Linked DNA regions of Homo sapiens: all the other regions are linked to region 1. Evidence: fine-mapped expression QTL. A gene starts in region 1. Each other region holds a variant in brackets. All regions are shown on one strand. Distances are from middle to middle.

The links. PIP is the estimated chance that this variant, and not a neighbour inherited with it, causes the effect.
Region 2: its variant is fine-mapped to the expression of ARRDC2 in whole blood (TOPMed, PIP above 0.99).
Region 3: its variant is fine-mapped to the expression of ARRDC2 in esophagus mucosa (GTEx, PIP 0.92).
Region 4: its variant is fine-mapped to the expression of ARRDC2 in whole blood (TOPMed, PIP above 0.99). The same link has a PIP of 0.9 or more in thyroid.

What each region holds. Positions count from the first base shown.
Region 1 is chr19:18,007,048-18,009,730 of GRCh38, forward strand. ARRDC2 (arrestin domain containing 2) reads left to right here and starts at 1,123. Exons shown (of 8, transcript NM_015683.2): 1 at 1,123-1,537; 2 at 1,664-1,730; 3 at 1,924-2,071; 4 at 2,545-2,647. The coding sequence starts at 1,264. RefSeq lists an enhancer at 1,177-1,396.
Region 2 is chr19:18,034,157-18,036,839 of GRCh38, forward strand. No RefSeq gene overlaps it. Among named protein-coding and RNA genes, the nearest start is that of ARRDC2, 27 kb to the left of the region's middle. The variant C/T (reference allele first, on the strand shown) is at 1,102.
Region 3 is chr19:18,028,559-18,031,241 of GRCh38, forward strand. It overlaps the pseudogene CSP3. Among named protein-coding and RNA genes, the nearest start is that of ARRDC2, 22 kb to the left of the region's middle. The variant T/TAA (reference allele first, on the strand shown) is at 1,404.
Region 4 is chr19:18,048,289-18,050,971 of GRCh38, forward strand. It overlaps the pseudogene RPS18P13. Among named protein-coding and RNA genes, the nearest start is that of IL12RB1, 37 kb to the right of the region's middle. RefSeq lists a silencer at 1,080-1,241. The variant A/C (reference allele first, on the strand shown) is at 1,260.

The DNA of each region.
Region 1 (2,683 bases):
CACCCACACACCTCACTGAGGTGGTGGAAGTCTCCTGAGCCAGGCTCAGAGGCGGACAGTCACGGCAGGGGATGGGTTCAGCGGCAGCGCATTACGCTGCCACGAGAGGGCGCCAGCGTCCCGCAGACGACGCAGAGGCAACTCCCGCTGGAGAAACTCCATGCGACTTTTCTTTGGGGAAACTGAAGCCCAGAGAGAGGTCACGCCGTCCCGTGGCCACACCGCAGCTGTGGACCTGGGGGTGCCCGAGCGTCCCCTGCATTCAGCTCTGTGGCGGGACGGGGGCTGAGGATGACTGGAGCAGGCACAAGGGCTGCGGGGAAGGTAGGGTTTGCCAGAGGCTGAAAATTGGGAAGGGAACATCATTTCGTAGGTACCGCTCCTGGGCGAATGCGCCGAGGCGCGACCGAGTGACGGTATGTCAAGAGCAGGTTGATGACCCGGGAGCGAGGCTCTTGGAGGAGTCCAGCTGGGGCTGCACGATGATCCATGCACAACCTTCTGAGGTCAGGACTGATTTTTACTTTCTCCCGGCTCTACAGAGGTGGAAACTGAGGCTCCAAGAGGTTGTCATTTGCCCAGAGCCACCAGCTAAGCGGGACTTGAATCAGGAAAGGGGTGCAGCAGGCACCAGTGTGGAGGGCGGTCCCACCCACCTCCTCCACTTCTCCCTTTGCATAGCGGGGGAAACAGGCCTGGAACAGTCATAGGCTCTCTGGCCCTCAACTGGGGCGAGAGTCCCCCGCCCCAAATCGGGCTGGACATGCCTCGAGTCACGTCAACGAGGGGCGGCTGGTGAGTGATTAAGCCGAGAGGCTGAAGGCTCTGCTAGGTGACCTCAGGCCTGGGCCCTGCCTCTGCACCTCTTTTTTTCCTCTTTACCCCCGGGGTCCGCGAGAGACCAGCTCTGGCAGCCTAAGGGCTTCAGTTTCTCCCCGGGGTCCGCGAGGGAAGGGGGCAGCCGGCGGTGAGCAGGGGCGTTTGTTATTTTGCTCCACGCCTGGGCAGAGCCACGCCCCTTGTCGCGCTATTGGTGGAGTCCCTTCCCGGGGCGGGGAAGAGACGGTGACCCCACCCCCCCCCGCCCTGCCGTATAAAAGCGGCGCCGACGCACGGCGCGGGGATTTTCTGCTCCGGTTGGTGAGCGCGCCTGCGCGTTGACGGCGATTTTGCGTTCTGAGGCTGCAGCGTCGGCATCTTGAGCTGCCGGTTCGCGAGTTCGAGGCCAGGTTCCGCCTGTCGTGGGTTCGCACCCCGGACGCGATGCTATTCGACAAGGTGAAAGCGTTCTCGGTGCAGTTGGACGGCGCGACCGCGGGCGTCGAGCCCGTGTTTAGCGGCGGCCAGGCCGTGGCGGGCCGGGTGCTGCTGGAGCTGTCAAGCGCCGCGCGTGTGGGTGCCCTGAGGCTGCGCGCGCGGGGCCGCGCCCACGTGCACTGGACCGAGTCGCGCAGCGCGGGCTCGAGCACGGCTTACACGCAGAGCTACAGTGAACGCGTGGAGGTCGTGAGCCACCGCGCCACGCTCCTGGCGCCAGGTACGGATGGAGGACCCCTGCTCCAACACCAGTTGTGTGCCTCCCACCACCTGGACGGCGGTACCTCCGTCAGCCCTGGGACCCCAGCGCAACCGCTCAGTCGCCTCCTTTTTCTCCTACCTGCAGATACCGGGGAGACCACGACGCTGCCTCCTGGGCGCCATGAGTTCCTGTTCAGCTTCCAGCTGCCCCCGTAAGTCCTCTGGGGTGCAGGGTTGCCCTAAGCCTGCAGCCCCTTCCAGATTGGTACCTCCAATACTGGATATCTGGGCACCTCTGAGCCCCAAGACTCTCCCCCTGGGAGGCCCCCGGAGTGTCTGTGTCTCCTTCTCCCTGCCTGCTTGTCTCTGTATCTTGTCCCCTGAAGTCCCGTCCCTCCACCCTAGGACCCTGGTGACATCCTTCGAGGGCAAACACGGTAGTGTCCGCTACTGTATCAAGGCCACCCTGCACCGGCCCTGGGTCCCAGCACGCCGGGCAAGGAAGGTGTTCACTGTCATCGAGCCTGTGGACATCAACACGCCAGCCCTGCTGGTGAGTGGCCACCCTTGGGGAGGTAGGTTGGGAGTATTGTAGGAAGGGGCCTGCCTGGCTGCTGGGCGACACCAACCAATAAGATGGAGGTCATAGGTGGGCCCTGGCAGGGAGGGAGGCAGGTGTGGGAATGCGTGTGGAATCCACTGGGATCTGCACCCATTTGCCGTGTGACTCTGGGCAAGTGTCTTGAAGCCCTCTCTGAGCCTCAGATGCCTCTTCTGTGAAATAGACCAGAGCTAGGGCTTACCAAGTGTGAATTACACACCAAACACTTGGCTTATACATTTCATTTCTGGCTTTATAAGATGGGTTGTGTTCCTGGCTCTATTTAACGGATAGTTCCTGGATTGTTAAAAAGAAACCAAGCCCTGCCCAAAGTCCTCCCTCAGCTGGGGGTGGTTTGGAAGCTCCACAGCGACTGTGGTTTGCACAAAGTGACTCATCCATGTCACTTTCCTCTACACCGACAGGCACCTCAAGCGGGGGCTCGGGAAAAGGTTGCCCGATCCTGGTACTGTAACCGTGGCCTAGTCTCCCTTTCGGCCAAGATCGACCGCAAGGGCTACACCCCAGGTAGCAGGCGGACCGGACTGGGTTGGGACGGGGGCT
Region 2 (2,683 bases), 27 kb after region 1:
AAAAAAAAGAAAAGTGAGATTGGGCTGGACACAGTGGCTCACACTAGTAACCCCAGCGCAAGGCAGGAGGATCCTTGAGCCCAGGGGTTTGAGAACAGCCTGGGCAACATAGTGAGACTCCGTCTCTACAAAAAATTTAAAAATTAGCTCAGTGTGGTGGTATGCACCTGTAGTCCCAGCTACTCAGGAGGCTGATGCGGGAGGATCGCTTGAGCCTAGGAGTTCAAGGCTGCAGTGAGTTATGATTGCACCACTGCACCCCAGCCTGAGAGACAGAGCAAGACCCTGTCTCTGTTTTAGAGACAAATACATGTCTCTAATATATATATAATATATGAAAATATATATCATATATATAGATACATACATGAATATATAGTATATATTTATAGTATATCTATGTATAGTGAGACCCCATCTCTACAAAAAAGAACAAAATTAGCTGGGTGTGGTTGTGTGGGCCTATGGTCCCAGCTACTCAAGAGGCTGAGGCGGGAGGATTGCTTGAGCCCAGGAGGAAGTCAAGGCTGCAGTGAGCCAAGATTGCACCACTGCACTCCAGCCTGGGCAACAAGAGTAATAACCTGTCTTTAAATTTTTTTAATGTAAAAATAAATAAAAATTTAAAAGAAAAGGCTGGCCAGGTGCCATGGCTCACGCCTGTAATCCCAGCACTTTGGAAGGCCAAGGCGGGTGGATCGCGAGGTCAGGAGATCGAGACCATCCTGGTTAACACGGTGAAACCCTGTCTCTAGTAAAAATACAAAAAATTAGCTGAGCATGGTGGCATGTGCCTGTAATCCCAGCTACTCGGGAGGCTGAGGCAAGAGAGTAGCTTGAACCCAGGAGGCGGAGGTTGCAGTGAGCCAAGATCATACCACTGCACTCCTGGGTGACAGAGCAAGACTCTGTCTGAAAAAAAAGGCAAGGCAAGGCAGGGAAGGGCAGGGAAGGGCAGGGAAGGGCAGGGCAGGCAAGGCAGGGCAAGGCAGGGCAAGGCAGGGCAAGGCAGGGCTGTTTGGGGCTTCCCTTGCTCTCTGGCGTGTTTCTCTTACCAGATGATGCCTGCACCACGTGATAACACAGCAAGGAGACCCTCGC[C/T]GGATATGGCCCAATCTTGGACTTCCCAGCCTCCAGAACCACAAGCCAAATAAACTTCAATTGTTTATAGATTACCCAGCCTGTGGTATTCTGTTACCACAAAGCAGAAAGCTAAGACAGTTGTTTCTCTGAAATTTGAAGTTAACGGGGTGCCTGGATGTGTATTTGCTAAACCTGATCCCCCTGTGATGAAGCCTCCCACATCACAAAAAAAATCTTAGAAATTTAAAACTTAGCCAGGTATGGTGGTGCACACCTATAGTCCCAAACTCAGGAGGCTGAGGCAGGAGAATCCCTTGAGCACAGAAGGTCAAGGCTGCAGTGAGCCATGATCGCACCACTGCATTCCAGCCTGAGTGACAGAACAAGACCTTGTCTCTGTCTTTTTTTTTTTTTTCAGACAGAATCTTGTTCTGTCGCCCAGGCTGGAGTGCAGTGGTGCGATCTCGGCTGATTGCAACCTCTGCTTCCTGGGTTCAAATGATTCTCCTGCCTCAGCTTCCCGAGTGGCTGGGATTATAGGCGTGTGCCACCATACCTGGCTAATTTTTGTATTTTTAGTAGAGACAGGGTTTCACCATGTTGAGCAGGCTGGTCTTGAACTCCTGGCCTCGAGTGATCAGCCCGCCTCAGCCTCCCAAAGTGCTGGGGTGACAGGCGTGAGCCACTGCGTCTGGCCTTCACCTTTCTCTTTTATCCTTACTTTTATTTTTTTTTAGACCGGATCTTGCTCTGTCGCCCAGGCTGGAGTGCAGTGGTGCGATCGCAGCTCACTGCAACCTGGACTTCCCAGGTGCAAGTGATCCTCCTGCCTCAGCCTCTCGAGTAGCTGGGACTATAGGTGCATGTCACCGTGCAAGGCTAAAACTTTTTTTTTAAAGAGATGGGATCTTGCCATGTTGCCCAGGCTGGTCTCAAACTCCTGGGCTCAAGCGATCCTCCTGCCTCGGCTTCCCAAAGTGTTGAGATTACAAGTGCGAGCCAATGCGCCTGGCCTTATCGTTGCTTTTGAGGTGAGAAGATGGAGGTCCAGCATCCAGGGCCAGATTTGAGCCCACTGGGTCCTTTGTCTCTAGCCTTAGTAGCACTGGCCATGAAATGGGACTTTAGCCAACTGCAGGTGACCAAGAGCCAACCTTGCATCTCAGGCTGCTGGGCCCCTCTGAGCTCAGCCCCGGGGGCTTGTTGCAGGAAGGCCCCTCACTTTTATTTATCCCCCCACCCCCACTGTATATGTAACTGTCTGAAACTCACTGTTAACCCCATAAGGAAAAATGTGCTGGCTGGGCACCATGGCTTATGCCTGTAATCCCAGCACTTTGAGAGGCCGAGGTGGGAGGATCACTTGAGGTCAGGAGTTCGAGACCAGCCTGGGCAACATGGTGAAACCCCGTCTCTACTGAAAATACCAAAATCAGCCGTACATGGTGGCATGTGCCTGTAATCCCAGTGTCTCAGGAGGCTCAGGCAGGAGAATCGCTTGAACCCGGGAGGCAGGGGTTGCAGTGAGCCGCGATCACACGACTGCACTCCAGCCTGGGTGACAGAGTGAGACCCCGTCTCAAAAAAAACAAAACTCATT
Region 3 (2,683 bases), 22 kb after region 1:
ATTACTCTACGCTGCGGCTGTTTGAAAGCATTCATATACACAAATAAGTGAGCATGGCTGTATCCCAGGAAAACTTTGTTCATGGACACTCAAGTGTGAATTTCATGTAATTTTCACATGTCATCAAATAGTCTTCCTCTGGTAGTTTTTCAGTCATTTTAAAATGTAGGCCAGGTATGGTGGTTCTTGCCTGTAATCCCAGTGCTTGGGGAAGCTGAAGTGAGAGGACCGTTTGAGGCCAGGAGTTCAAGACCAGCCTGGGCAACATAGGGAGACCCCCTCCTCCATCCTTACAAAAAGTTTTAAAAATTAGCTGGGATGCCTGTAGTCTCAGCTATTCAGTAGGCTGAGGTGGGAGGATCACTTAAGCCTGGGAGTTCGAAGCTGCAGTGAGCTATGATCCCGCCACTGCATTCTAGCTTGGGTGACTGAGAGAGATCTTGTCTCTAAAAAAAAGGAGGGAGCCAGGGCCGGTCATGGAGACCATCCTGGCCAACATGGTGAAACCCTGTCTCCACTGAAAATACAAGAAAGAAAGTAAAAAAAAAAAAAAACCCAAACTAGCTGGGCGTGGTGGCAGGCGCCTATAATCCCAGCTACTCGGGAGGGTGAGGCAGGAGAATCGCTTGAACCCAGGAGGTGGAGGTTGCAGTGAACCGAGATGAAGGCACTGCATTCCAGCCTGGGGGATAAGAGTGAAACCCATCTCAAAAAAAAAAAAAAAAAAAGGAGCCAGGAGCGGTGGCTCACACCTATAATCCCAGCAGCACTTTGGGAGGCTGGGGCAGGCGGATCACTTGAGACCAGGAGTTCTAGACCAGCCTGGCCAACATGGTGAAACCCTGTCTCTACTAAAAATACAGTAATTATCTGGGTGTGGTCCCAGCTACTCGGGAGGCTGAGGTGGGAGATTAGCTTGAACCTGGGAGGCAGAGGTTGCAGTGAGCCGAGATTACGCTGCTGCATTCCAGCCTGGGCGACAGAGTGAGACTCTGTCTCAAAAAAAAAAAAAAAAAAAAAAACGGAAAAAAAATTGAATACTGTTTTGGGGTCATGGTTAAAGCTGAAGTTTACCAACCCCTGATGGGTCATAAGTGTCATGATTTGTGTTTACAGAGTATCAGAACTTTGTTTAAAGTTACCAGCTGATAAAATATGAGGACAGGTTTATGGCTAACAGGGTTTCATCATTGACAGATAGCAAGTATCAGGATTAGTCTTTTTTCACAAAGTATCAGAACACAGCAAGCTCTGATGGCTAATCAGGTGTCAGAACCTGGGTTTAAGTCCAACCCTGCCTTGGGGCCCACGGCACCGCGGTAACCACCAACTACTGTCCACTCTCAGGATACTGTTTACTAAGTATCGAGTGACAGGCTGATGGCAAAGTATCGGGTCATGGA[T/TAA]GTCACACTGTGAGTTGGGCACTGTGACAGCGTCTCTAGATGCCAGCTGTTTACAGTGACAGGAGACTGGCTGTTTACAGGGGATGAGTCAGCCCCACTTCCAGATACCCAAGTCCAGATGGCGGGTAGGATTGGCACCTCTCCAGGTGTTTACAGGGTACTGAGGTCCTGGCAAGCTGGGCTTCTCTCCTGCGGCCACCTCTAGCCAGGGTGGGGAATGAGTCCCCTGAAGGCTGTGGGACCCATGATCCTGGTTAGATTCTCCTTCTGCTTGTCCCTGGCTGTGCTGCCTCAGGCACATTACTTAACCTTTCTGGGCCTCTGCCACCTCATCTGTAAAATGGGCATGATGGTGAAGCCAGGTTGCCAGATAAAATATAGGCTACTCAGCTAAATGTGAAGTTCAGATCAATATTGAATTTGGTTTTACTGTAAGTATATCCCATGCAACATTTGGGATATACTTATACTAAAAAAAAATTATTCATTGATGCTATGGTTTGAATGGTCCCCCAAAGTTCATATGTTTGAAACTTAATCCTCAAAGCAGTCCTTTCAACCTTGTCAACCTGTCGGCGCGGCCTCTGGTGCAGTGGCGGCGGCTCCTGTTCCTGCCGCAGCTCTCTCCCCTTCTTACCTCCCCACCAGATCCCGGAGATCGCCCGCCATGGCTTTACTTACTGCGGCCGCCCGGCTCTTGGGAACCAAGAATGCATCTTGTCTTGTTCTTGCAGCCCAGCATGCCAGTGCTTCCTCCATGAATTTGAAAGACATATTGGCTGACCTCATACCTAAGGAGCAGGCCAGAATTAAGACCTTCAGGCAGCAACATGGCAAGAAGGTGGTGGGCCAAATCACTGTGGACATGATGTATGGTGGCATGAGAGGCATGAAGGGATTGGTCTATGAAACATCAGTTCTTGATCCTGATGAGGGCATCCGTTTCTGAGGCTTTAGTATCCCTGAATGCCAGAAACTGCTACCCAAGGCTAAGGGTGGGGAAGAACCCCTGCCTGAGGGCTTATTTTGGCTGCTGGTAACTGGATGTATCCCAACAGAGGAACAGGTATCTTGGCTCTCAAAAGAGTGGGCAAAGAGGGCAGCTCTGCCTTCCCATGTGGTCACCATGCTGGACAACTTTCCCACCAATCTACACCCCATGTCTCAGCTCAGTGCAGCTGTTACAGCCCTCAACAGTGAAAGTAACTTTGCCCAAGCATATGCACGGGGTATCAGCCGAACCAAGTACTGGGAGTTGATTTATGAAGACTCTGTGGATC
Region 4 (2,683 bases), 41 kb after region 1:
TTCATTTGTTCATTCATGTTCATTCATTCCTGGCCACATCCAGGTGCCTGCCTTATTTGGGGTAATGCTCGAGGCCCCAGCTTGGGAAGGTCCAGGCTGGATAGAGATATTCTTGTTCCCACAGGGTCAAGGCTAGGCTGGAGGGAGGTACCCAGGGCTGGGGGTCCCCAGCGATCCAGGAAGTGGGGGGCTTGCTGAAGAAGGGAACCTCATGCCAAAGGCCTGGGTCCCTTCCTCCTCATGCCCACCACCCCCATGACGAAAGCCAGAGAGGATGAGGGCAATGTGGGGCTTCCATACCCCAAATATGATCCTGGTGCCTGGTATGGAACCCCAGAGCCTGCCACCGTGTCTCTAGTGATCCTTGAAAAGTTCCAGCATATTTTGGGAGTACTCAACACCAACATCGATGGGTGGTGGAAAATAGCCTTTGCTATCACTGCCATTAAAGGTGTGGATGGAAGATACGCTTATGTGGTGTTGAGGAAAACAGACATTGACCTCACCAAGAGGGCGGGAGACTCACGGAGGATGAGATGGAATGAGTGATCACCATTGTGCAGAATCCACAGCAGTACAAGATCCCAGACTGGCTCTTGAACAGACAGAAGGATGTAAAGGATGGAAAATATAGCCAGGTCCTAGCCAGTGGTCTGGACAACAAGCTCCGTGAAGACCTGGAGCAACCGAAGAAGATTCCGGCCCATAGAGGGATGCACCACTTCTGGGGCCTTCATGTCTGAGGCCAGCACACCGAGACCATTGGCCGCCATGGCCGTACCTGTACCGTGGGTGTATCCAAGAAGAAATAAGTCTGTAGGCCTTATCTGTTAATAAATAGTTTATGGCCGGGCGCGGTGGCTCACGCCTGTAATCCCAGCACTTTGGGAGGCCGAGGTGGGCGGATCATGAGGTCAGGAGATTGAGACCATCCTGCTAACACGGTGAAACCCTGTCTCTACTAAAAATACAAATAATTAGCCAGGTGTGGTGGCACACGCCTGTAGACCCAGCTACTCTGGAGGCTGAGGCAGGAGAATCTCTTGAACCCGGAAGGCAGACGTTGCAGTGAGCTGAGATCATGCCACTGCACTCCAGCCTGGGCGAAAGAGCAAGACTGTCGCAAAAAAACAAATAGTTTATATACCAAAAAAAAAAAAAGGAAGAGGAAAAAAAACCTGAGCCCAAAGCCTAGCCCTAAACGTCACCTCCGGTCCCCATTCCCGGCTTGCACCGGGCAGCAGCCAACACCACGGGGA[A/C]GTGGCCTGGGCTTCCCGCCAGACTGCCTGCTGGAAAACTAGCTCTGGGAGGTGGGGGTGTCACCATCCAGTATGTGAGGGTGGAACCTTCTGGGCTGACCATTTATGGGACAGGCCCCTAGAATGGGAGGCCCAGGACAGCCGGAGAGCCACAGAGCCCAGCAGCTGGACCAGGGTGACCATGATGCCACTGGGGCTGGGACACCTGCACGAGACTCTTCAGGAATAAGCCCCTATTTCCCCACCTAAAAATGGAAGTGGGGCCGGGCACAGTGGCTCACGCCTGTAATCCCAGCACTTTGGGAGGCCGAGGCGGGTGGATCACTTGAGGTCAGGAGTTCGAGACCAGCCTGACCAACATGGTGAAACCCCGTGTCTACAAAAATACAAAAATTAGCCAGGCATCATGGTGGGGGGCCTGTAATCCCAGCTACTCAGGAAGCTGAGGGAGGAGAATCACTTGAACTGGGAAACAGAGGTTGCAGTGAGCAGAGATTGTGCCCCTGCCCTCCAGCCTGGGCCACAGAGCGAGACTCTGTCTCCAAAAGTAAAAAAAGAGACAAATAAACAGAGAAACAAGGAGAGACAGAGGCAGTGAGAGACAGAGACACAGAGAGATACACAGGGAGACACAGAGACAGGTGAAACAGAGACAGAGAGAGATGAGACAGAAACACACAGAGAGACAGACACAGAGAAACAGGGAAAGAGAGAAAGGGAGACACAGGGAGACAGAGACAGAGAGACAGAAGTGAGACAGAGAGATGAGACAAAGAGACAGAGAGAGAGACAGGGAGAGAGATGAGAAATGAGATAAAGAGAAAGATGACACAAATATTTTGGGAGGCTGAGGGGGGAGGATTGCTGGAGGCCAGGAATTAGAGACCAGCCTGGGCAACATAATGAGACCCTTATCTCTACAAAAAGAAAAAGAAAAAAAAAGATGGCAAAGAAAGAGACAAGGAGAGAGACAGAGAGACAAAACACAAAGATAGAGAGAGAGGGGCACAGGGAGAAAGAGACAAAGAGGGGCAAGACAAGCCAGGTGCGATGGCTCACTCCTGTAATCCAAGCACTTTGGGAGGCCGAGGAGGGCGGATTACCTGAGGCCAGAGAGTTCAAGATCAGCCTGACCAACATGGTGAAACCCCGTCTCTACTAAAAATACAAAAATTAGCATAGTAGGGTGGCGCACGCCTGTGATCTCAGCTACTTGGGAGGTTGAGGCAGGAGAATCTCTTGAACCTGGGAGGTGGAGGTTGCAGTGAGCCAAGATCACGCCATTGCACTCCAGCCTGGGCAATAGAGTGAGACTCTGTCTCAAAAAATTAAAAAAAAAAAAATTAAAAAAAAAAATAAAAGCAAGTCAGAGAAATAGAGACAGAGAGACAGGAAGAGATGAGAAATGAGAGATAGGGAGAGAC